Linked DNA regions of Homo sapiens. The protein of the gene in region 3 purifies or fractionates together with the protein of the main gene of each other region. This does not show direct contact. Each region holds a gene or a part of one and is shown on either strand. Other genes may lie near its edges. The genes, in order: AKAP11, SIX4, GOLGA6L2, WDR62, MTFR1L, FOXP4 and CEP295.

Region 1 (3,500 bases), on a different chromosome or scaffold from region 3:
CTAAGGAAGAGTTGACAGCCTCTCTAGTTGGCCTACCAAAATCCTTAACAGATTCTTGCTTGTTTGAAAAATCTGGATATGAAGAAGATAATGAGTGTCACGTTACACCAGAATTGCCTAAGTCTCTTCAGCCTTCCTCACAAAATCACAGGTTTTACCACAGCACTGGCAGTTTAAATGGATATGGTTGTGGAGACAATGTTGTTCAAGCTGTAGAACAGTATGCCAAAAAAGTAGTGGATGACACTCTAGAGCTAACTCTAGGATCTACAGTGTTCCGAGTGTCTGAGACCACAAAATCAGCAGACAGGGTCACTTATGCAGAAAAGTTGTCACCTCTTACAGGTCAAGCTTGCAGATACTGTGACCTTAAAGAACTCCACAATTGCACTGGAAATTCATCTCAGCACTTTTTCAGACAGGGTTCTCTCGCCAGTAGTAAGCCAGCTTCTAATCCAAAATTTAGCAGCCGCTATCAGAAATCTAGGATTTTTCATCTCAGTGTCCCTCAGATTCATGTTAATCTTGATAAGAAGGCAGTGCTTGCTGAGAAGATAGTTGCTGAAGCCATTGAAAAAGCTGAGCGAGAGCTGAGCAGTACCAGCCTGGCAGCCGACAGTGGGATCGGACAGGAGGGTGCCAGCTTTGCTGAAAGCCTTGCCACAGAAACCATGACAGCAGCTGTCACAAATGTTGGGCATGCTGTTAGCAGGTAAGTTTCACGTTTCTTTTGGTTGTTAATGATAAATTAAAAAGATAAATGTGATCCTATATGTCTTAGGTCCTGTTCATAAAGGAATGATTATTTTTAACCCTACATAAACAAAAGTTTTCCCTGTTGCATTTATGTATTGTTTCATATCCTACACATGACTTTAATATATTTTGGTCTCCTGATCCCTTTTGAGGGAAGGTGTTATCCATTTACAGAGCTGGAAAATGAGGGTTGGAGAAAATAATCACCTTATCCAAGTTCATAGAGCTATGAAATAGGTAAAGTTGAATTAAATAAATAGCTAGAGAATTTTATATAGTAGTCCCCCCTTATTCTCAATTTTGCTTTCCTCAATCTGAAAATGTTAAATGGAAAATTCCAGAAATAAGCGATTCGTAAGTTTTAAGTTGCATGTTCTGAGTAGCATGATGAAGTCTCACACCATCTCACTCAGGATGTGAATTACCCCTTTATCCAGTTTATCCATACTACATGTGCTGTTCACCTGTTAGTCACTTAGAAGGTATCTCAGTTATCAGGTCCACAAACCTGGTATGTACAGGGCTTGATGCTATCTGCAGTTTCAGACATCCACTGGGTGTCTTAGATCATATCCCCCATGGATAAGGGGGGACTATTCTATAGTAAATGTAGAATATTACTATATTAATTTACTATTCTGAGATTAAATTTTTGTACACCTTTCTTCATTCACAAGGGTAAGTTTTCTTATAAAGACCATGGTTAAACTACTCTGAAGAAGAAAGTGAAAATTCTTTACATACTTACACCATTTCTCTTGATTGGTTCACAATCTAAGAGGACAGTTCTTTCTGGTAGTCCTACAGTGTCCTGTTTTTCAGTAGCTATCTCTTGTGCTCAGTGATTCTTTTTTTTTTTTTGAGATGGAGTCTCGCACTGTTGCCCAGGCTGGAGTGCAGTGGCACAATCTCAGCTCACTGCAACCTTTGCCTCCCGGGTTCAAGCGATTCCTGTGCCTCAGCCTCCCTAGTAGCTGGGATTACAGGCACCCACCACCACGCCCAGCTAATTTTTGTATTTTTAGTAGAGACAGGGTTTCACCAAGTTGGCCAGGCTGGTCTTGAACTCCTGACCTTAGGTGATCTGCCCACCTCAGCTTCCCAAAGTGCTGGGATCACAGGCGTGAGCCACCGCAACCAGCCATGCTCAGTGATTCTTTAATAACAACTTAGTTACAGTTTTTCAGTTTAAACCTTCTTTGTCCCTGAGAAGATATCAGGACCAACTTGTGTTATTAGTTGATAGGATGATATTTGTAAGTCCTGCTTGAAAGAGAAAATGCTTTAAGTTGAGGTGGAATTTAATTGAGTCACATGATATTCCAGATTTTTGAGTAGCTTCTGTTAAAGCCATGACATGGTCTGCCTCTTTTCTTATCCATCTTAAAATAGGGAGATATAGCTTGGCCAGGATTCTTGAATCCAATTGCTCCATAGCGTCTACTTGAGATGAGAGATGATGTAGGTTTCTGGTGAACTAGGAGAGGTCTCTATTTGCCCTAATCAGGCAGCCTTCTTTCTCCTAGACCAGGGGTTGGCAAACTACAGTCTGTGGGCCAATGTGGCCTACTGGTTGTTTTTGTATGGACTGCAAGCTAAGAACAGATTTCATGTTTTTTTTTAATGGTTGAAAAAAATCAAATGATATTTTGTGATGTGGAAATTATATGAAATTCAAATTTCAGTATTTATAAATAAAGTTTTATTGGGACACCACCATGCTCATTCAATTACACATTTCTGTGGCTGCCTTTGTGCTATAATGGCAGAGTTGAGTAGTTGGGACAGAGGCTGTATGACCAGCAGTGCCTATGTACTTCCTGTTTGGCCTGTATTAGTTCATTTTCACACTGCTATAAAGATACCACCTGAGACTGAGTAATTTATAAACAAAGGAGGTTTAATTGACTCACAGTTCTGCATGGCTGGGAAAGCCTCAGGAGACTTACAGTCATGGCACAAGGCAAAGGGGAAGCAAGTGTTTTCTTCACAAGGCAGCAGGAGAGAGAGAGAAGGGGGAGCTGCCAGACACTTTTAAAACCATCAGCTCTCATGAGAACTCCCTCACTGTCATGAGAACAGCATGGAGGAAGCCGCCCTCATGATCCAATCACCTCCCACCAGGTCCCTCCCTGGGGGTTACAATTTGAGATGAGATTTGGGTAGGGACATAGAGCCAAACCATATCATGGCCTCTTACAGAAAACAATTGCGAACCTCTGTCCTAGATCCACATTTTCGTTTTCACTACATACCAGTTCCTAGTATGATAATAAACATAATAAATTGTTAATAAATATTCTCATGAATAGGTAATAAATTAGGCCTTTTTACAATTGAAATAATTTTCCTCATACAGGTTGCTTCAGGCTATTTTACTTTTTACTCCTCCTCAGTTCAGTCCTGTCTGCCCTACGGACCCATCCATCCCCCTTTCCTCCCACCCTCATGGGAAGAAAAGAGACTGTCCTCTAAAGTTTTTAAGACATCACTCTCAGGGGCTAGCAAATGCCTTTGTTATTGATTTTCTCAGTAATTTCCACTTTTCCTTCTTAGAGTTGGGTGAGTAGATAGCCCCTAAAGTTCTTCCTGTAAGCCAGTGCTGTCCAATTTCAGCTTTTTATTAAGGCTGGAGTAATTATTTTCCTGCTTCTCTTCTTAATAATTGTGCTAGGGTTCTGTAAATACTGACTAAGGAAAGCTGACTCTAGTGTGTAGAGTTTACGTTTAACATTTTTTATTTC
Region 2 (3,500 bases), on a different chromosome or scaffold from region 3:
ACACACGAAGATTAGCCGGTCATGGTGATGCACGCCTGTAGTCCCAGCTACTAGGGAGGCTGAGGCAGGATAATCACTTGAACACGGGAGGCAGAGGCTGCAGTGAGCCGAGATCGCGCCACTGTACTCCAGCCTGGGTGACAAAATGAGTCTCCGCCTAAAAATAATAATAATAATAATAATAATAATCTTAGTTGCTCAGACTGTAAAGTGAGTAAAAGATGTAGATATTCTACTTTTCCACATAAATCCCAACTATAGAAAGATAAGTCTATCTTGTCAAGACATTTTAAAGAATGGCTCAGTATCTGTTTGTGAGAAAAAACTGAATCCCCAAAATGTTTTATTGAGAACTGCAATACCTAACTACCATAGAAATGTTGCTTACTGGATTAAACTTAACTATCTGGTTAAACTTAGACTGTCTGTTCAACTCACCCAGACAGTCTAAGATTTGATCTTACTTATTTTAACTGAAAATGCTATTCTTATTCCTATTAAATGTCCCATTTAAAAACTCAGCTATTAGTTCATAATAATTTTCTATGGCAGTGCTCCTCTAGATTACACAATTAAAAGTATTTCTACTTTTCTCCTCCCCCAACATACATAACTCATTCTTTCTGCTCAAATTTGTTGCCTTTAAAATGTGACCTGTTTGGAAATTTTCCAAATGAGAGAAAAGGGGTTAGATCCACATTAAATTATTATCAAACTAAGCACTTTGGCTTTCCCTGTGGTTTTCATATTTTTGCCCTATGTTAGATAGTAACTTAACTCTTTCCATAACTTGGAACAATGATGAACTGAATAGTATGCTGCAGGAATGTCTTGTTTTAGTACCATTTTGCCTAAAGAAATGCAAATGTACAGAATGAAATTTAGAACAATTTTTCCATTAATTCCTTCAATAAGCTGACATAGACCATAGTTGTGGTAACAAGAGAGTTGTGCATAAATTGATTTTTTTGGGGGGGTGGTAAAACCATCTTATAGGAAGCAGACCTTTAAAGCCAACAATTACTACTTTGGTTTTGTAAAAATCTGGATTTTCAGATTTGTCTACAAGAAGGCAAACGTGCATTAAGATCTACCCTTCCTGAATTCAAGGGATTATGCAAACTCCACTGCCAAATTCTAACCATTTCTATTTCTTTAAAGAGAAAATGACATAGAGGATCCAGGCTTGCTTAAAGTCAGTGAAGAACTAATATATCAGCCTCAGTTTTCCTGAATTTCATTTAAGTGCTTTCTCTGGAAGATTGCTGTTAGTAAAGCCACAAACATATAAAATAAGGCTTACTATTATCTTCACAAATAAACCCACACATTTAGGGGGTTAGTATATATGCTGAGCGATAGAAATCCAATGGCATATTCCTCTGATTTTCTTTTAGGTCTGTTAGTCTTCATTATAGGAGGAAACAGGATTCAAACATAATTGATCCGGTCTTTTTAGCTTGTTCTTCTAAAACATTTTTTGGTCAAATAAATAATGCTTAGGTAAAGTGTATGCATTCTTACCAACTGCTAGACTAATTTTGTGTTCTTAGCAATTTTATTAATTTTTAATATTAAAATGCCAAGCAGTGAGTTATTTTGTAAGCACTGATTGACTTATCATATTTCTGTAATTGTAGAACTGGCAGGACTTGCTATGAACTGTATTTTTCCATTCAGTTGTTAGTAAAATAAAAGCCCATCCTCATGATGCAAGGGAATAAAGCAACCTGGATATGACATGGGTATTGTGAAAGAGGAGAATCACATCAAGGCTACTCTACAGCTTCGGCAGCTAATAAGGTACCTGAACAGAAACATCAATCTATAGCTATCACCAAATGCGTCACTTACAGCAGCTGATGAACACATTTGCTGGTGCATTAAGGTACCAAATGAGATTGTTACCTTGTGAAGCTGCCACTGACACAGGGGGCAGCTGCAGTGGAGAGAATCCAATGCTCCCATTAAGGAACTGGCTGTTTGCTCCGGAATTGGGGATCTGGACAATGCCATACTGGTTAATTTGCACTGGTGTAGTAAAAGTCACTACAGACCCTCCATCTTGGGAAGCCACTGTTTGAATGCCTTCTCTTTTCACCTCAGTGCTGGGTATCAGGCCTGGGAATGAGACAGGGACACTGGGGCTGTAGGACGTGGTGGTTGCTGAGTTAGCAGAACTCTGGAGGACTTTGAATTCCTTCACGTCCTGGGAAGTAGACCCCAGTATGTCAGTCATGGATATACCATTGCTCACAATGTTTGATGACATTTTTGGTGGGTTCAATGCCACTGCCTGTGTATTTCCCACATTTAATCCATTAAGGATAACTCCACTGGGTCCCTGAATAAAAGAATTTCCATTAAGGAAGACAGGTGAAGTACTTGCAGGTACCAAGCTTCCATTCAACAGAACTCCAGAAGAGCTTAATGATATCTTAGCATTTCCAATTTGTTGCATATATACTGGCTCCATATGACTGGAAAGGCTGAGGTTGGTGATGCCATCAGATGAACTGGAGAGTGGGTGAGGAGATAAATCCTCATGTCCCTTGCTGGATTCATCTTCAGTGCTGGGGTTGCCATCTGACTCACTGTATGGAGGGGGAAATCAAAATGTTCAGAAGGTCAGGGGGATGACATTCTACACAGTGCCACTTGTTTGGAAAACCAGCTTCTAAATCCATTAAAGGCAGTATTTAAGGAAAGCACAGCAGGATATCTGCTAGTCCTATTTAAACTAAGAGGCCTTTCAGCAGATTCCGACCAGCCAGAGAATCTGGGAAGATAAACTCTCAGATCCCAATCATTTAAAATAACAATAAATTCAGGGAAAGTCCAGACATCTGCAAGATGTAAATTCAGCATTACAGGAGAAGAACATATTTGATTTTACAGTGTAGAAGTGCTATTCCTTACTGTTACATATGCTGCTACTGACACCATAGAAAAAAACACCTTAAATGAGGTGGTCGGTCTTTCCTGTTTAGGAACTCCTTCCCCTCCCCTCAAACCAATTCAGATTAGTGTTATCTTGGAGGTAAATGAAGCTGCCAAAGGAGCAGGAGGTAGGAAGTGCTCAGCTTTTCTTTTTTGGTCAGTTAGTTAACAAGAGATCGTTTTCTCACCTGCTCCCAAACTTCTACTCCACCAGACTGACAACTCTCTCATTCAACAAAGTGGCTGTCCTTGTTGTAGGAAAAGGCACTTTCAACCCAAGAACAGTTATGTGCAGTCGCCTTTGAATCCAAAGGAAGCCAAAGGGGCCTATTTAACAAACACCATCCAGTGCCCTGGTGAGGTGGGAGGGAAAGGGTGTCACTCAGAGGCCTTCTAACTATTAGACCTCTTCCCCAACGTCCTTGGTCCCTCTGTTCCAGGCAGGACCCTGTTCCTCAGCTCTCTGACTTGGGAGAAATACCAAATCGGGGTTGGGGGGTGGGTAGTGATGGGGTTTCCCATTTGGTCTGAGGCTGGGAGGGAGAGCAAACGAGAGCAGA
Region 3 (2,853 bases):
CCTCCTGCTCCCACATCTTCTCCTCCTGCTCCTGCATCTGCTCCTCCTGCTCCCGCAGCTTCTTCTGCTCCCGCAGCTCCTTCTCCTGCTCCCGCAGCTCCTTCTCCTGCTCTCGCAGCCTCTTCTCCTGTCTCCGCATCTTCTCCTCCTGCTCCCGCATCTTCCCCTCCTGCTCCCGCAGTCTCTCCTCCTGTCTCCACATCTTCTCCTCCTGCTTCCGTATCTTCTTTTCCTGCTCCCGTAGCTCCTCCTCCTGCCTCCACATCTCCTCCTGCAAAGTGTTGGTTTGAACCTCAAAAGGAAATAGACTTATGAACTAGCTATATAAATGTAATCTATAAAATAACAGTTTTCATCTATGATTCTTTAAAAAAAATTTTTAAGCCTTAACACTGAGGTTCTGATTTCCCAGGCAGGGCCCCAAATTTGTAGATTTTTAGCACACTCTAGAGGATTCTATGGTGGGACCAGAACAAGGACCCAAATTTTCCAGCTCTTGGCTGGACCCTCCCCATACCTTGCATGATCCCTAGACCATGGTCCTAGCTGGATGGGTCTCCCACAACCCCTGGGGCTGCAGCCGCTCACCTGTGGCAGCAGGAACTTGGCCCTCTCCAGTTTCCTTTTTAGCTCCTTCACGTTGAGCTGGATCTCAGACTTTTCAGATTCTGCAAGTCGAAGTTTTTCTTGTAGTTCGGCATTTTTCTTCTTCAGCTCCTCATTGGTTATGCTATGGCCCGAGGCAGTAGAGAAAGGAATGAACGAAGAACAGAAAGGACTGCTTTGGTGATCAACCCTCTACTCTCGCCCCACAAGCACAGAACCGTGGCACTGGAAGGGACCCCAGGAATTAAAAGTCCCAGGTGGCAGGCCAGAGAGAAGACATGAGTTGCCTGAGGCTACCCCATGAGTCAGTGGCACAGCCGGCACTAGAGCTTCCCTGTGCACACATGTAAACCTGTATGACCCCCTACCATGCTCACCTGTACCCCCCACCTCCCAGCACACCACCCACGCTAAGGGCCCCCAGACCTCCCATCCCACCTTCCCCCATCCTACGTGTTCCTGTACAGTTCCAGACTCAGGGCGTCCCTCTCCTTTGTTAACTCCTCGATGTACTGCAAATAGAGAAAGGTTAAGTCAGGACAGAGCAGGCAGAAGAGCAGCTGGCCGACCAGGAACAACAGCTACACTGATACTCCACAGTAACACTCCCTCACTCTCCATCACACCCGACATGTTCTCAAGGCAATTCCAAGCCCATGGTCTCATTTTTTTTTCTTTTTTTTTTTCTCCTTTTCTTCTTTTAGAGATGGAGTTTTGCTCTTGTTGCCCAGGCTGGAGTGCAATGGCGCAATCTCGCCCCATGACAACCTCTGCCTCCCGGGTTCAAGCAATTCTGCCTCAGCCTCCTAAGTAGCTGGGATTACAGGCATGCGCTACCACACCTGGCTCTCACTTGTTTTTCAGAGAACTCAGTAAGGGTAGAAGGGACAGGGAAAGAGACTGAATTGATAGCTGGCTAACAGGGGCCCAGAGAGATCAGATAATATTGCTATTGCTATTACTGTTATTACTGCCACTGTTGGAACCTTTCTTGAGTGCTTCACCAGGCACTATGCTAACAATCCCATTTAATCCTCACAACCTCCATAGGAGACGGTTACCATTATTACCTCTATTGTATAGATGCAAAACATGGGGTATTAAAAGTTAAATGGTTGCCTAAGATCACTTTGACAGAGCTGGGATTTCAACACCCAGGTGTATCTGATTCTCTAAGCCCATTCTTTCCCTGGGGGTAGGGGCACAGATAAGAAGGAGGAAATTAATCCTTTGTTGACTTTTTGAAAGAACGATACATTGGCATAGTCCAAAACTCAGAAGGTAGAGAAGGGAAATATCTACCCCACACACACTGTTCCTGTCTCCTGAGTTTTTTATGAATCCTTACAAATATGTTTTTATGTATGTTACCATAATACGTACACACACACACACACACACACACGCACATGCACACTTATGTGTGTTCCCTCTCTCTACACAAATGGTAACATACTAAAGATACTCTTCTGTACCTTCATGGTACAAATACCTTAACCCCTGCCTAGGACTTGGTCAAGGCCACAGCCAAGTATGGGCAGGGCAGGCTCTTGGCCTTGGAGCTCTGTGTCCAGTGCTCGCTCCCCACAGTGCCCCCCAACTCACCCACAGCAGCTGACTCAGCCCCAACCTGCCTCTAATAACCACACACAAAAGCAGCAAGAAATGACCCATACTATCTTCTGGGCAGGACACTGCATCCTGCAGGAGGGACCTTTAGGCTCATTCCTCCATCTGCGAAGCTGGGATCCCAGGAGACTGGGGAGGTGATTGGACTTACCCTGTCTGCCTTCTTGTGCCATGTGGACACAGCAGAGAGAGCCCGCTGTAACTCTCCTGCAAAGTGCCAGGAATGATGCAAGCGGCCGGCGAGATCCTTGGACTCTCCTGGAATGAGAGAGGTTGAGACACAGCCCAAAGGACTCCCCCTAAAGGCCTGTGAAAGTGCCAGGTTGAAGGATGATGGGGTGCCCAGGTTCCCATCTTCAAATTTCCTGGCAGCATCCTGGCTGTAATAGAGCGCTGTCTCCAGTTCAGTTTTCTGACACGTGAGAATTCGTATTGTATGATCCTGGGCCTTTGGGAGAAAAGACAAGCAAGTGCTGAAAGAGAAGCAAAAAAACCTTCTCCAGAGGACAGGAGGGAACTTCACACCCTCCACTCACCTCTATCTCCCGCCTTAGGGCTTCCTGATGTTGGTGGCTTGCCTTCTTTTCCTATAGAAAGAGGAAGACAGAGCTCTTACTA
Region 4 (2,856 bases), on a different chromosome or scaffold from region 3:
GCTGCGGGGAAGAGCTCTAGGGGAAGATCCCGAGGGGACCCTCATAACCCTTCCCGCCGAGCAGCCCTGGCCCTAGGCCAGCCCACAGCCCAGCGGGGCACTCCCCAGAAACCCTTATGTACAGACACAGGGTACGAGCAGGGGCAGTGGGTGAGGAGGCATCGTGAGGCTCAGGTCAAGAGTGAAGCAGTGGGCCGGGCACGGTGGCTCACGCCTGTAATCCCAGCACTTTGGGAGGCCAAGGCGGGCAGATCATCTGAGGCAGGAGTTTGAGACCAGTCTGGCCAACATGGTGAAACCTCATCTCTACTAAAAATACAAAAAATTAGCAGGGCGTGGTTGTGGATGCCTATAATCCCAGCTACTCAGGAGGCTGAGGCAGGAGAATTGCTTGAACCAGGGAGTCGGAGGTTGCAGTGAGCCAAGATTGGGCCACCGCACTCCAGCCTGGCAACAGAGCGAGACTCCGTCTCAAAAAAAACGAAGCAGTTGCTCTCCACTCACCCTCCTGGCCCTGCTGGGGAGCCAACTCCAGGGACGCCAATGCTGTGCCCAGGCTGCACAGACGGCCTCGGCAGGTGTGGGTGAGGCAGGGCCCTACCTCTGCAGGGGGACTCAGTCAGTGTCTCAAAGTGGTGGCGGAGGAACTTCTCCTGCTCCGGAGTCTGGGGTAGGGAGCTGCTGGGGACGCTGGGTCCCTCGGGCAGGGACAGCTCATCTTCTGTGGGACCTGCGCATCCTGACAGGGAAGGAGGGGAGGGACAAGAGGAGCCAACACCATGAGTCACAGCAGACGCCACCTGAAATGGAGAAAGCGGGCCCCACCCATCCCTGCCCTGTTGCCCGCAGGCTGAGAAGCAGGGATCCCCGTCTTCCAGGCTCAGTGGGCTCCAAGTGCAGGGCCTGTGCTTAGACATTGTGACTGGCCCTAAGCCAGGCCCGAGCAGCGAGTCCCCTGCGTGTCTGGCCCCTGCTTACCTGGGAAATGGGGCAGCGACGTGGCAAACCGAGGGGCAGGGTCAGGAGGCGGAGCTGGGGAGTGGATGGCTGCGAAGCTGCACTCCAGGTCGGCCTCTGACTCCCCCGAGTCTGAAGGACAGAGTCGGGGTCAGGAGCCCACAGCCTGACCATTCTGGTGAGCCAGGGCCAGGGCTACCCTTCCCTGGGCTCAGTTTCCCCATCTGGAGGAGGGATGGTAAGAGCAGCTGCCCCCCATTTTATGAATAAGGGAAGTTCCACATCAAGGAGGTGGCAGAGCTGGGCTCTCAGCTGTAGGCAGCTGGGCCCAGAATCCTCAGGCAGCAGCAGGGACCACATGTGTCTTCCTCGACAGACTCTGAGCTTCAGTACTGGGTCAAAGTCACCATCGGTGCCCAGAAAGGGGCTTGGCTGAACGCACAGACTGTCACAGGGTCCCTGCCTGCCCTGCACTCACCCTCAGGCGGGCTCTGGTCCTTTGGGCTGTCGGAGGACACCCTGAGGTAGGAGTCGCCCTGCTGGTCTCCAGGCCCGGCCTCCACCTCCTTCCTGCAATACTGGCTGCAGTGCCAGTGGGGGCAGAGAGGGAACAAGGACTTCAGCTGGAGACTCAACAGCTAGCCCCACCCGGAGCCCCTAGGCACCTGTACCCGCTGCTCCTGCAGGAGCACTGCGACAGCCTCCCCGCCTCCTCCAAATGCCCCCTCCTTCCCCCAGGTCAGGCCCTCCTGTACCCCACCTGGAACCAGGGAACTAAGGCTGGGCTCCTGCCCCATCCAGGCCTCAACTGTCCCCACTCCCACAAGCCCACTGGGAAGGCAGAGAGCACTTCTTCCAGGATGCAGCTATCAGCTGGGGGTTCCTCCAACTAAGGCTCCCTTGGTGGAAAGGACACCCACCTGTCTGTCCCTGTGACTGTCACTTCTGCCTCCAGAGAGTAGAGGATGAGCTCACTGGCCTCAGATGATTCCTTCTGCTGGGGCAGGAAGGAGGGGTGCCCGCGGCCAGCTTCCTGGGGACTCTCTGACTATGGGGAAGACAGCACAGCCATTCTGAGGCAGGCATGGCTGGGGCCACCAACAGTGCGCCAGGAACCATGCCAGCAGCCCCACTGCTGGAGGCTGTGAACCAGGGCCTGTGCCATGCCCTCCACTCGCAACCAGCTTGTCCTGGTCTGCCCCTGCATTATCAGTCCCTTTACAGATGAGGAAGAGGTGTGGCACCAAAAATAGGAGGCCCAACCCTCTACGTGTCTATTTATATCAAGTTCAAGAATAGGAAACCCAGTCCTTGGTGAGAGGTCAGAACACTGGTTATCCTGGTGCGGGGACCTGACTGGGAAGGGCAGAAGGGGGTTTCTATGAGGTAGAAAACACTCCAGATTTTGCCCAGGGTAGTGGACACACGTGAATTACACAGATAGTTCATCAAGCTGTATACCTAAAATCTGTGCATGTTACTGGATGTATATTATACCACAATGAAGATGACAAATTATAGGATAGGATAAAAATGAATTTTGTTTGGAAAATAGTAGAGAAAGAGCTAAAGTTGCACGGGCACCTCTAAGAGCCCAGGCCCTATACTTAAGCATGGATTCCTGTAAAAGCCCTCTGGGGCAGAAGAGATTGTTATTACCATTTAAAAACAAAACAAACAAAAAAATTTAAAAAATATTTTTGTAGAGGTGGGATCTTGCTACGTTGCCTAGGCTGGCCTTGAACTCCTCAAGTGATCGTTAAGTAATCCTCCTGCCTTGGCCTCCCCAAATGCTGGGATTACAGGTGTTAGCCACTGCCCCTGACCCCATTATGACTACTTTTTAGAAGACTGAAGCCCAAAGAGGTAAGCCTCTTACTCCAGGTCACACAACAGGAA
Region 5 (3,500 bases), on a different chromosome or scaffold from region 3:
AAGTTCTCCATTCCTTAGCAGACCAGCTACTGCCTCAACTACCTGACCCGGGCATATGTCTCCTCTTCATCCGCAGCAATCCAGGCGATGTCAGCCAGGGTAGGGACTGGGGGCACATCTCTCAAACACAGGTCAGAGATGTTGGGCAGGGTCTATGGAGAAGCAAAAGTCATCAACATTTACAGATGCCATGATGAGCCAATCAGAAACTGCAGAATACACAGGAGGGGTACCTAATCCGGCACTGGGTGTCAGGAAGGCTTCCTAGAGGGGGCAGAAGAAGGTTCCTGGTCGAAAACATTGAACAGAGGCCAGATGACAGTCAGGCATGGTGGCTCACACCTGTAATCCCAGCATTTGGGAGGCCGAGGCAGGCAGAATGCTTGAGACCAAGAGTTTGAGATCAGCCTGGGCAACATGGCAAAACCCTGCCTCTACCAAAAAATACAAAAATTATCTGGGTATGGTGGTATACGCCTGTAGTCCCAGCTATTCAGGAGACTGAGGTGGGAAGATGGCTTGAACCTGGGAGGCAGAGGTTGCAGTGAGCTGAGATTGCACCACTGTACTCTAGCGTGGACAACAGAGCCACATTCAAAAACAAAAACAGGCAAGACACATGAGAGTCTATGGGATTACAAACAGTTCTGTGTCTTCAGTGGAAAAGGCCTGAGTCACCTTTTAGTAGAGATGGCAACTGTCTAAAACCACTGTGCCCTCTGGTGAAAATACAAGTACAAGGTCATCCACAACCTGTTACAGCAATAGGAAATTTTTCCTGACTAGCTTTTTATAATCCTGTATAGCTAATTGAGATCTACATTGTTACAGCAATGCTGTTTTAAACAAACCTGAAAATTTGAATATATTTAGATTTAAATAAAAATAAATGATTATACAAAAGGAACCATAATAGGATTTCTTAAAATAGCTCCTCAACCTAGAGATGTTGAGTAAAGTGAAAAATTAGGATTCAGTCATGTTGACTGTGATTACAACAAAGTAAAAAACATCCATCTAGAAAAAGAGGACTACACTAAGACATTAATAGTTATTGTATTATTACTATGTAATTATAGGTAATTTATTTTCCTTTTACTTTTCATAATTTTAATATTTTCATATGCTTAAATTTTCAAAATAAATTGGTAAGAGTCCCTTAAATAATATTTAAGGTAATTTAATAATAATAATAAATGCATATTTACACACAAGTAAGATTCAACTGTTTCTGCTACAAATTATTTGGTATGGTAGATGGATCCAGGATTGATCGCTCCTGCATTTAGATAGGAAACCTGGGACTCACAGGAGTTAAGTGATACTCCAAGGTCACACAGAGAAGAACTTCCAGTGACCCAGGAACTAGTGCTAAAATAGGGCATTTGGGGGAAGCCTCCATTTGTTTTCCTGATTAGCCCTGAATGCTCCTTTGCTCTTGGCAATTAAATGAGTAAACAAATATAAAGTACAGCACAGTGCCTGACACATAGTATGTGCTCAGTAAATGTTATCTAGTATTACCAATACTGCTCACATACATTCCTGCTCTGTGAGAGCCTGTGCCCTTGATTGTCTCTGCCCAGCATCTGGCCAAAGAACTGAAGAGGGTATAGCCAAGTGTGGGGACGGCCTCTATGCAGTGAGCCACACTCCCTAGCTGTCTCCCTTTTTTTTTTCTGATGCTTCTGAGGCAAGTTAGGACCAGTTCCTGCCCAGGATCTTTAGACAATTCTGGATAGCTGGCAATCTGAATACTGGGACAGCTTTTCCTGCCCCCTACCCCTGCGACACTTCCAACTCCATTCCTGACCCTAATACCAACCCTGACACCTCTTCTAATTCCAGATCCAGTTCCTACAGACTCTGCTTCTTAGCATCTTTTATACAGATTTGGCTCCTTCATTTCTGTTTCTACCTGGGCCCACATCCTTTCATGCACATATTTCTATCTCCTCTGTGTGGGTAGAAAGCACAAGTATTTCTTTTGTATCCCAGCTCTCCAAATGCACACATCTGAACCATATAGTTTGGGGCTGGTGCTTAACCATTTAGTTCCTAGAGGGAGGCAGCTGGGACTAATAAATGCTACTTAGCTTTCTACCACAGAAGGGGTCTCAAGAGACCTGGGCCAGGTAGGAATCTCTGCTGCTGAGTGGGTGCTAAAGGATCCCTAGACACAGAGGTAAGACCAAAGCACCCCAGTAAAGGATGCCCAGATTGGCCAAAAAGAGAAGGCTGAGGAATTATGGCCTCAGAGAAACACTAAAAATAGTGGAGCTGGGCATGGTGGCTTGTGCCTGTAATCCCAGCTACATAGGAGGCTGAGGCAGGAGGACTGCTTGAGCCCAGGAGTTTAAGACCTAGCCTGGGCAACATAGGGAGACCTCATCTCAAAAAATAATAAAATAAAAATACTGGCTACATGGTCAATTCTTAGGGCTGGTGAAGAAAAGCAGAGTTCAACTCAAAAATCACAATAGTCAGTGTCCCATGTGGGGGACCTGTCAGGTTCCTTGTGGTCACAGGTTTGTATGCACTCAGGAGGACACAGTGACCAGGATATCTTATAAGCATTTAACAAATATTTCATAACAGAATGAAAAGTGACCAGGAAACAACCTACTTGGGCAGTACCAAGGGGTTTGGGGCACAGAAGCAGCACTGTCTGAGCCTCTACTCTCCTGCCCTTCCAACATACTCACCTCAAAGGACGCCCGGGCACACGGCTTCAAGGGTAGGTTGGTCCCAATTCTTCTTACTACACTTCGAGCAGCCCCATGTGGCTTGTTTTGCCAGATTGGGATGGTCTGGAGCAAAGAGACGGAGACAGCTACAACCCCAGAGAATGAATCCAACTACTGTCCTTGTCCTCTCCTCTCTAGGTTTGTGGAGACTGAATTCCACAAACCTAGGGACAGGGCACTCTCTAGGGGCAAGTCAACTCTCAATTATAGTGAGGGCAGGTTCCCCAGTTGCCAGCCTACACCCTGGCCAGCCACCCAAGGGAATACCTGCTGCTGCTAAGGCAGTCAATGTTGGGAGGGTCAGGGAAGGGGAGAGGAAGTAGCTGAGTGTAGAGATTATCCAGGCTTTCCTTCCCGTCCTCTGTACAGAAAGGCAGACATACACTGACTCCTGAAGTGCCCCAGGATCATAGTTGGTTCTTCTTAGGGGGAGGGAGTGAAACGGTGGCCTTGCTCCAATTCCAGGCCTCTGGAGAAAGGAGTGCTCAACTGGAGAGTCTCAGAACCTTTTACAGTACTTCAGCAGGCCCAGCACCCAACCTTCCCCACCATACCCCTGCCCTGGGAATGCCCCTTACCACAGTGGCTTCCATTCCTGACATTTGAACCAGCTCCTGCACTTGAAGGACAAGGCAGCCACTGGGCAGCTCCGGGAGGCGGGAGGCGTGACTCCTTCATATCAGGCCATCTGGAGGAGCACCAGATTTCCCTCTTGTGAAACAACCCCCCACAGTGGGGATTTAATGGTCACCA
Region 6 (3,500 bases), on a different chromosome or scaffold from region 3:
GCTGGGCATGGTGGCAGGCACCTATAATTCCAGCTACTTGGGAGGCTGAGGCAGGAGAATCACTTGAACCCAGGAGGCAGAGGTTGCAGTGAGCCAAGATCTTGCCATTACACTCCAGCCTGGGTGACAGAGCGAGACTCCGTCTTAAAAAAAAAAAAAAAAAAGAGAAGAGAGGAGGAGGAAAAATAAGAAAGGGGGAAAATGGGGAGGAGAAGGTGGGAAGGTGGGGAGGTGGGGAGAGGGGATAAGAACAGGCAGGTGGGACAAGGGAGGGCTGAGAGGGCTGAGGGAAGGAAGAGAGAAGCCACTTGTCCTGGGGAGAGGCGTGGTGGGGGTGGGATGGGGAACCCCACCCAGGGTGGGGGATGACGCCTCCTCCCTGGTGGTTGAGGGGTGCTGGGGTGGGTGGGGGTCCGTGCTGTGTGCTCACCTGTACTGGGGCGGGGAGAGGCGAGGAGGGCTGCTGCTGCCGTTGCTGGGCAGCGGCTCCACGGGGGCACCCACGTCATCGTGGCTGAGGGGCAGCAGGCTGCTGGCGGAGCCAGGGTTCAGCATGCCAGGGCTGTTGAGGAGGGGGAAGCTGCTCTCGGCCAGGGCGGCCTGCAGGGGCACAGGGTTGGGCCTCGTCAGTGGCTCCACAGGATGGGGCACACTCAGTCAAGTGCTGTGCCTTCCCCGCCCACTAGAGAGCTGCCTGTGTGTCTGCCTACTGGCCCCACGGGCGGATCTGTCTGGGCAACCCCCAAGCCCCAACTCAGCCTTTGAATGTAGCACCCCTCCCCCATGGCTGGAACTCTGACCCCCCGACCTCCTACCTCCTAGCTTTCCTGGAACCTGGGCCTGGCTTATCCCCTCTCCCAGGGAACAGAGAACCCCCAGACTGACAAACCAGGAAAGGGGATGCTATAGGTATGCCATCCTCCCAGCTGCCTGCCTTGTCTGAACCCAGCCTTGAAAGCAGAGGTGGAGGCTGGCCCCGAGTTGGGGTGGGGCAGAGAGGTGGGGTCTCGGAGAGTTTGGGTCTTCACCCTCCTTCCCTCCTCTGGTGAGTCCTCTGCAGGGGAGGATGGGGGTCTCTTGTATGAGAAAGCAAGGGGGCGGGAGGTAGAGGTGAGTGGGTGGGCTCTGGGCAGGTCACCTGGTAGCTGGCATTAAGTGCTCCATAGCTGAGGCCAGAGATCATGTTCTTCACCAGGGTGGGGCTCCTGGAGGACAGAGAAGGCCATCTTTGGCTCACTCATTCACTTAGCTCTTCATTCGCATCTCTTTACTCTCACTAAGTAACGGCCTGTGCTGGGAATGGGTCCCATTCCCTATTCCGGGAGGCCAGGGCGGATCAGCCGCTGTCTTGGAGCTGTGTGTGTACTTGGTCTGATTCGGTCTTCACGCTCAACTGGCCCTGCAGGAGCAGCCCCTTCACAGGTGGGTGCGATGGGCTTGGTTCAGGGACCTGTCCAGGTCTCGGAGCTGGGAAGTGGGAACTGGCATCCCCCCAGTGTCTGCCTTCACAGCATGCTGCCCCCCCACCCGTTTTCTCTCCGGTCTAGATTTTCCAATGTTTGGCAAGGTCTAATCTATAGTCTCAGTAGTTACACACCTGGTCTGCCCACACTGTCTTGCCATCCTAGATTTTGGGACATGTCAGACATATGCTCAGCCTGTCCCACATGGAGGCTTCTGTATGGAAGCCTCCATACAGAAGGCTTCTCTGCACGGGAAGGTGTTCGGGAGTTGGGACAGGAAAAGCAGTGGCTGGGGGCTGTCCCTCTTCCAGTGATGACACCATCACAGAGCTCTCACAGAGCTTAAGGAAACAGCCAAAGGTCACCAAACTGGTGAGAAGCAGAGGTGCAAGCGCAGCCAGGCCTGGAGACTGGCCCCTAGGCATTCACCAGGGGATGGCTTCCCTCCATTCTCCAGGCTGCACACTGCCTGGGGTGCAAAGGCTCCTGCCTGGTAAGCAGGCATCTTTGAGGGGAGCAGACACCCCACACCTCAGAGACATCCATCTAACTTGCTCTCCTCTCCTTACCCAGGGGCTCTGGCCCAAGGGGCACAGCAAGCAGGTGGCTGGGGTGGGGCTGTTTGAGGTCGGGAGAAGGCCACTGCTGCTACGTGGAAGCCAAAGGGAGGTCCTGACCCTGTCCCAGGCTCCTCAGTTTCTGTTTAAACTGCCAGGTGGAGGCTAGGTGCGGTAGCTCACGCCTGTAATCCCAGCATTTTGGGAGGCCGATGCGGGCAGATCACCTGAGGTCAGGAGTTCGAGATCAGCCTGGTCAACAGGGTGAAACCCCGTCTCTACCAAAAGTAAAATAATTAGCTGGGTGTGGTGGTGGGCGCCTGTAATTTCAGCTTCTCGGGAGGCTAAGGCAGGAGAATCGCTTGAACCCACAAGGTGGAGGTTGCAGTGAGCCAAAATCGTGCCACTGCACTCCAGCCTGGGCAACAGAGCAAGACTCTGTCTCAAAAAAATAATAGGCCAGGTGCGCTGGTGCACGCCTATAATCCTAGCACTTTGGGAGGCCAAGGCAGGTGGATCACCTGAAGTTGGGAATTCGAGACCAGCCTGACCAACGTGGTGAAACCACATTTCTACTAAATACAAAAAAAATTAGCCGGGCGTGGTCGTGGGCACCTGTAATTCTAGCTACCCGAAAGGCTGGGGCAGGAGAATTGCTTGAACCCGGGAAGTGGAGGTTCCAGTGAGCTGAGATCGTGCCATTGCACTCTAGCCTGGGCAACAAGAACAAAACTCCTTCTCAAAAAAAATAAATGAATAAAATAATAAAATTAAAAAAATAATAAATAAATAAGTAAATAAATAAAATGCCAGGTGGTGAAGTGAAGCTGAGCACAAAAGACCAGGAGGGCAGAGACCTGGTCCTGGAACCAGCTCTGCCACAAATCTGCTCTGGGGCCTCCTGCCAGCCCCTGGCCCTCACTGGCTCTCCTCTGCCGTAAGATGAATTGGTGGGGTCGCGGGACCTCAGAGGTCTAGTCATCCTGATGAGCTGAGAGAGCGGGTGCCCTGGGGGTGGCAGCCCCTCACCCATGGCCCGTTGGCTGGCATCTGCCTGTGTGCCAGCTCTGGCCAGGGCTACTTGGGGCCCCTGTCTCTCTTTGCTACCAGGCCTCCTTCTTGGCCCCTTCCCTCAGTCAGAGTGAGGACAGAAGAGGACATAAATGTCTGCCTTCTGATTATCCATCACTTCCGGATTCCAGCCCCCTGTCCCCAAGCACTAGTCTCCTCTGCTCCTTTCTCCCCACACCCCTTCCCCCAGCCAGGAAGGATCTGGTGCACATGTGTACCCTGGAGAGGTAGGGGGTGGGGGTGAGTTGGCTCCTGCCCCCTGGGCAGGTACAGCCCATCCAGCTCTGGACCCACATACCCTGTCATCTTTGGCGGTCTCCGCTTCTGATACTCCCGCTCGTCCACAGTCCACACGGCACCCTTGACGTTCTCCACGCGGACGAAGCACTTGTGCAGGCTGAGGTTGTGG
Region 7 (3,177 bases), on a different chromosome or scaffold from region 3:
TTATATTGTAACCCTTGTGGGTTGCTAATAACCAAGCAGTTTGTAGTAGAGTTAACTCAGGCTCGTTCTAGGGACTCATTCATGTTCACTCACTGTACACTCATCTCTGGAAATGTAAAATTTACTTTTATACTATTGTTATGTAGGGCTGACAGGACAACTGGATCAGTTTCATTAAAAAGGTATGTATGCATTAGAAAAGACATTTGTATGGGTCATTTCAAAGAGGGCTTATGAGGCTGTGAAACCCAGAGCTCTTAACGCTGTGACCAAAGATGGAAGTTCTCTATAGGAAGCCATAGCACTCCTAATGTTTGGTGCTATGTTTTCCTGAGGAGATATAAAACGTAATAATCCAGGATTGTTGCCATGTGAGAGTTTTAAAGGTTAATCAAAATTTCTCTTCTTCAGGGCAAACTTGAAGATAAATCTTTTGACTCCAGCTCTTTAGAGGATCTAAAGTGACCTTGATGGACAGTGGAAGAAATCACAACATGGAATTCCTCGAATAACAATTTATTGACTTTAAATAATTTTGTCTAATGCTACATATACACAATTAAAAAACCTTTACACTATTTCTAGAAAGTCAGCATGTATTTTTGGCTCGAAGTTTCTCTAGTGTTTTCTGTGGAAGGAATAAAAATTTGAGTTTCAGTTGTGTACTTCATGCTTGAAAAATTAAGTCCTTCTCCCTCAGTTATACTCACCTTATGGAATTCTTTTGCCCTTGCTCTGTTTTGGGCATAAGCTTCTTGTTTTGTTTTTTCTTCCTTTTGTTGTTTCACTTCAGCTAGTTGATTGTATAACCTGTAAAGAATTTATATAGAATTAGAGACAAACACTGCAAAAAGTGAATCACTAAAAAAAAAAAAAAAATTAACCCTACCTTAGACCCCTTTGGTGCCTTAGAGCCTGTGTAGTCTTTCTGTCTTCAGGAAAAGATGCTCTGACTTTATTCACGCCCTTTAGACGACTCACAGATGAACCTGAGGAAAGAAAAGTGAAATCAAGTTGTAAACACAAGGCTTTAAACATTTCAGGGAGTTGGTTGAAGATTTTAAAAATTCAACATACTTATAGATGGTTTCTCTTTAACTGTTTTGATTTGAGAATTTTCAGAGACATGAATTTTATTCCTTATTTCTTTCTGCCTCTGGTGGGATCTCTCCATAAATGATTTTTTCCTCTTTATAAATGCTTCTTGTAAGCTCCCTGGTACAGGTGTAAGCCTGCGAGGGGTTTCTGCTGGGGGAAAAGAAATTTATGACAGAAATAGGCAAAGTATCTACTTTCCATTAGAAGTGTGGAGGCCGTCCAAGGCTTACCTGTAGATGCTGTCCTTGGTTTTTCTATGGAAAGTTCTGATACAGCTGGATAATCTGAGGCTTCTGTTGCTGATACAAGAGGCAGAAACTCACTCACCTAATGGCAAGAAAGTTGCATGTTTTACTCTTTTTAAACGCTTTAAGCGGGTCTTGCTCTGCTGTCAGATTAGAGTGCAGCGGCATGATCACACCTCACTGCAGCCTCAATCTTAGCTGGGTCTACAGAGACCCGCCACCATGCCTGATTTTTGTATTTTTTGTAGGGATTGGGTTTTGCCTTGTTGCCCAGGCTGGTCTTGAACTGGGCTTAGGCTCCACTGCCCTCACACCTCTAGGCCTCTGTTTAGATAGCTTTATTCTTATTGCCTCCCTACTCCCCTAGTAAAATTACCAGTTGTTCTGAAGTCATTTTTCAATATCTGGGAATAAGTTTAGGTAAAACTTCCAACTTGGCACTATAACACTAGGTGTATAAGATTAGTTCTGCCAGTCTTGGAGACAGGCATAAATTGGAGTGGGGATTAAAAGAAAATGCACAATGGTTGACAGAATAGTGAAGGTTTAAGACAAATTGAGAGCTGGTGGGGGTGTCGGCTTAGTTAAATGCATAGCATAATTCCCTCCAATGAGTACCTTCTGATAAGTTGTAAGAGACAAATCAACTGGTTTGCTTGTAATAGAATAAAATAGAAGGAAAGCTTAAATTTACCTGAAAGAAGCATTTTGCTTCATTCTCGCTCTTCTCTTCTAGGGTTAAATTTGCAAAATCCATTTCAGCAATACTGGTATCAGTGGTGCTTATTAAAGTAAGTTCTGGTTCTTCCATTATACCATGGCCAGTTTCTGTTTCCTGTGAACCACAATTAAAAGGAAAACCATGTCAAAATAGCCTTAAAAGACTTAAACTAATCGTTTTGTATATAATGCACATTTTTTGCAAGTGTATATAAATGTGAAAATGGAGGAAGAAAAGCAATGATTGGCAAAGACCAACAGATCAGATTTCCTTAGGCTTCCATAACTCCAGCATTCAGTTGTAGAAATACTGGAGCCTACTTTGGGGAGGGGATGAAATAGTGTGACAATGGACTGAAAGGTATCTACCACAATGATTACAAACCTAAATGCTTGTAGTGTTGGGCAAAAAATATAAATGCAGGTTGGCTGTGCCGAATTGTATCCTTTAAAGGGAGCAGGGGTCGACTGGGCTGCTACCAAATGTGGGCCACTGACTGCTAACAGATAATGTTTCAAAAGTATCTAAACACAACAAGAACAAAAGCAGCCACATAAAACGTGGTTTAGTTGTAATTCTTATTTTCAATCTGTTATGTTTATTTGTGGAAGGATAAACTGCACATACTGCTAGATGAAAACCAGTCACCAGTTGACTGGTGTTGAAAGCAAGCAGATTATAAGTTGCTTAATATGAGGAGCAGGTTTCCAATACTTATTCCAATAATGGATGAATTCATTGCACTGGAATGAGGCTCAACACTGAAAGTGCTGAAGCACAGGCAGAACCACCATTTTTCAGGGAAGTTGGAGAAAGGATATCTGAATTGGGAGAAAAAGGATCTTTTGTAAAATACTCTCAGAAGACAGTTTTCAAATTTTTAAGTTTCTGCATTATGCTGGATATTTCTAGTGATCACAAGCTGGATAGCAATATTAACAAGCAGTTTTGCTTGTATTTTGTTTCAGGTTTTTCCTGCCAGGCATTGTGGTGTGTCCAAACTACTTCGGAAGTTGAGGCAGGAGGATCCCTTGATCCTAGGAGTTTGAGTTCAGCCTGGGTAGCATAGTGGGAACTTCATCTCTAATTTTAGAAGAAAAAAGTTTTTTCCCA

The links.
Region 1: the proteins of GOLGA6L2 (region 3) and AKAP11 purify together in Homo sapiens (affinity purification with mass spectrometry; one large-scale study listed by BioGRID and IntAct). This does not show direct contact.
Region 2: the proteins of GOLGA6L2 (region 3) and SIX4 purify together in Homo sapiens (affinity purification with mass spectrometry; one large-scale study listed by BioGRID and IntAct). This does not show direct contact.
Region 4: the proteins of GOLGA6L2 (region 3) and WDR62 purify together in Homo sapiens (affinity purification with mass spectrometry; one large-scale study listed by BioGRID and IntAct). This does not show direct contact.
Region 5: the proteins of GOLGA6L2 (region 3) and MTFR1L purify together in Homo sapiens (affinity purification with mass spectrometry; one large-scale study listed by BioGRID and IntAct). This does not show direct contact.
Region 6: the proteins of GOLGA6L2 (region 3) and FOXP4 purify together in Homo sapiens (affinity purification with mass spectrometry; one large-scale study listed by BioGRID and IntAct). This does not show direct contact.
Region 7: the proteins of GOLGA6L2 (region 3) and CEP295 purify together in Homo sapiens (affinity purification with mass spectrometry; one large-scale study listed by BioGRID and IntAct). This does not show direct contact.

Annotation. Positions count from the first base shown.
Region 1 is NC_000013.11:42,303,152-42,306,651, forward strand, and holds part of AKAP11 (A-kinase anchor protein 11), read left to right. Parts: coding exon 1-712; intron 713-3,500. UniProt on the Homo sapiens protein: Binds to type II regulatory subunits of protein kinase A and anchors/targets them.
Region 2 is NC_000014.9:60,717,852-60,721,351, forward strand, and holds part of SIX4 (homeobox protein SIX4), read right to left. Parts: intron 3,294-3,500; coding exon of another isoform or gene 3,272-3,293; exon of another isoform or gene 3,257-3,271; intron 2,595-3,256; coding exon 1,909-2,594; intron 1-1,908. UniProt on the Homo sapiens protein: Transcriptional regulator which can act as both a transcriptional repressor and activator by binding a DNA sequence on these target genes and is involved in processes like cell differentiation, cell migration and cell survival.
Region 3 is NC_000015.10:23,441,391-23,444,243, forward strand, and holds part of GOLGA6L2 (golgin subfamily A member 6-like protein 2), read right to left. Parts: intron 2,823-2,853; coding exon 2,772-2,822; intron 2,684-2,771; coding exon 2,387-2,683; intron 1,119-2,386; coding exon 1,060-1,118; intron 731-1,059; coding exon 589-730; intron 293-588; coding exon 1-292.
Region 4 is NC_000019.10:36,099,897-36,102,752, reverse strand, and holds part of WDR62 (WD repeat-containing protein 62), read right to left. Parts: intron 2,006-2,856; coding exon 1,878-2,005; intron 1,540-1,877; coding exon 1,436-1,539; intron 1,090-1,435; coding exon 979-1,089; intron 740-978; coding exon 602-739; intron 17-601; coding exon 1-16. UniProt on the Homo sapiens protein: Required for cerebral cortical development. Plays a role in neuronal proliferation and migration.
Region 5 is NC_000001.11:25,822,954-25,826,453, reverse strand, and holds part of MTFR1L (mitochondrial fission regulator 1-like), read right to left. Parts: exon of another isoform or gene 3,436-3,500; 5' UTR 3,350-3,435; coding exon 3,326-3,349; exon of another isoform or gene 2,848-3,325; intron 2,811-2,847; coding exon 2,706-2,810; intron 153-2,705; coding exon 43-152; intron 1-42. UniProt on the Homo sapiens protein: Mitochondrial protein required for adaptation of miochondrial dynamics to metabolic changes. Regulates mitochondrial morphology at steady state and mediates AMPK-dependent stress-induced mitochondrial fragmentation via the control of OPA1 levels.
Region 6 is NC_000006.12:41,594,881-41,598,380, reverse strand, and holds part of FOXP4 (forkhead box protein P4), read right to left. Parts: coding exon 3,390-3,500; intron 1,206-3,389; coding exon 1,139-1,205; intron 601-1,138; coding exon 431-600; intron 1-430. UniProt on the Homo sapiens protein: Transcriptional repressor that represses lung-specific expression.
Region 7 is NC_000011.10:93,727,682-93,730,858, reverse strand, and holds the end of CEP295 (centrosomal protein of 295 kDa), read right to left. Parts: intron 2,179-3,177; coding exon 2,038-2,178; intron 1,426-2,037; coding exon 1,329-1,425; intron 1,249-1,328; coding exon of another isoform or gene 1,246-1,248; coding exon 1,078-1,245; intron 990-1,077; coding exon 890-989; intron 811-889; coding exon 711-810; coding exon of another isoform or gene 629-710; coding exon 590-628; coding exon of another isoform or gene 582-589; 3' UTR 501-581; downstream 1-500. UniProt on the Homo sapiens protein: Centriole-enriched microtubule-binding protein involved in centriole biogenesis.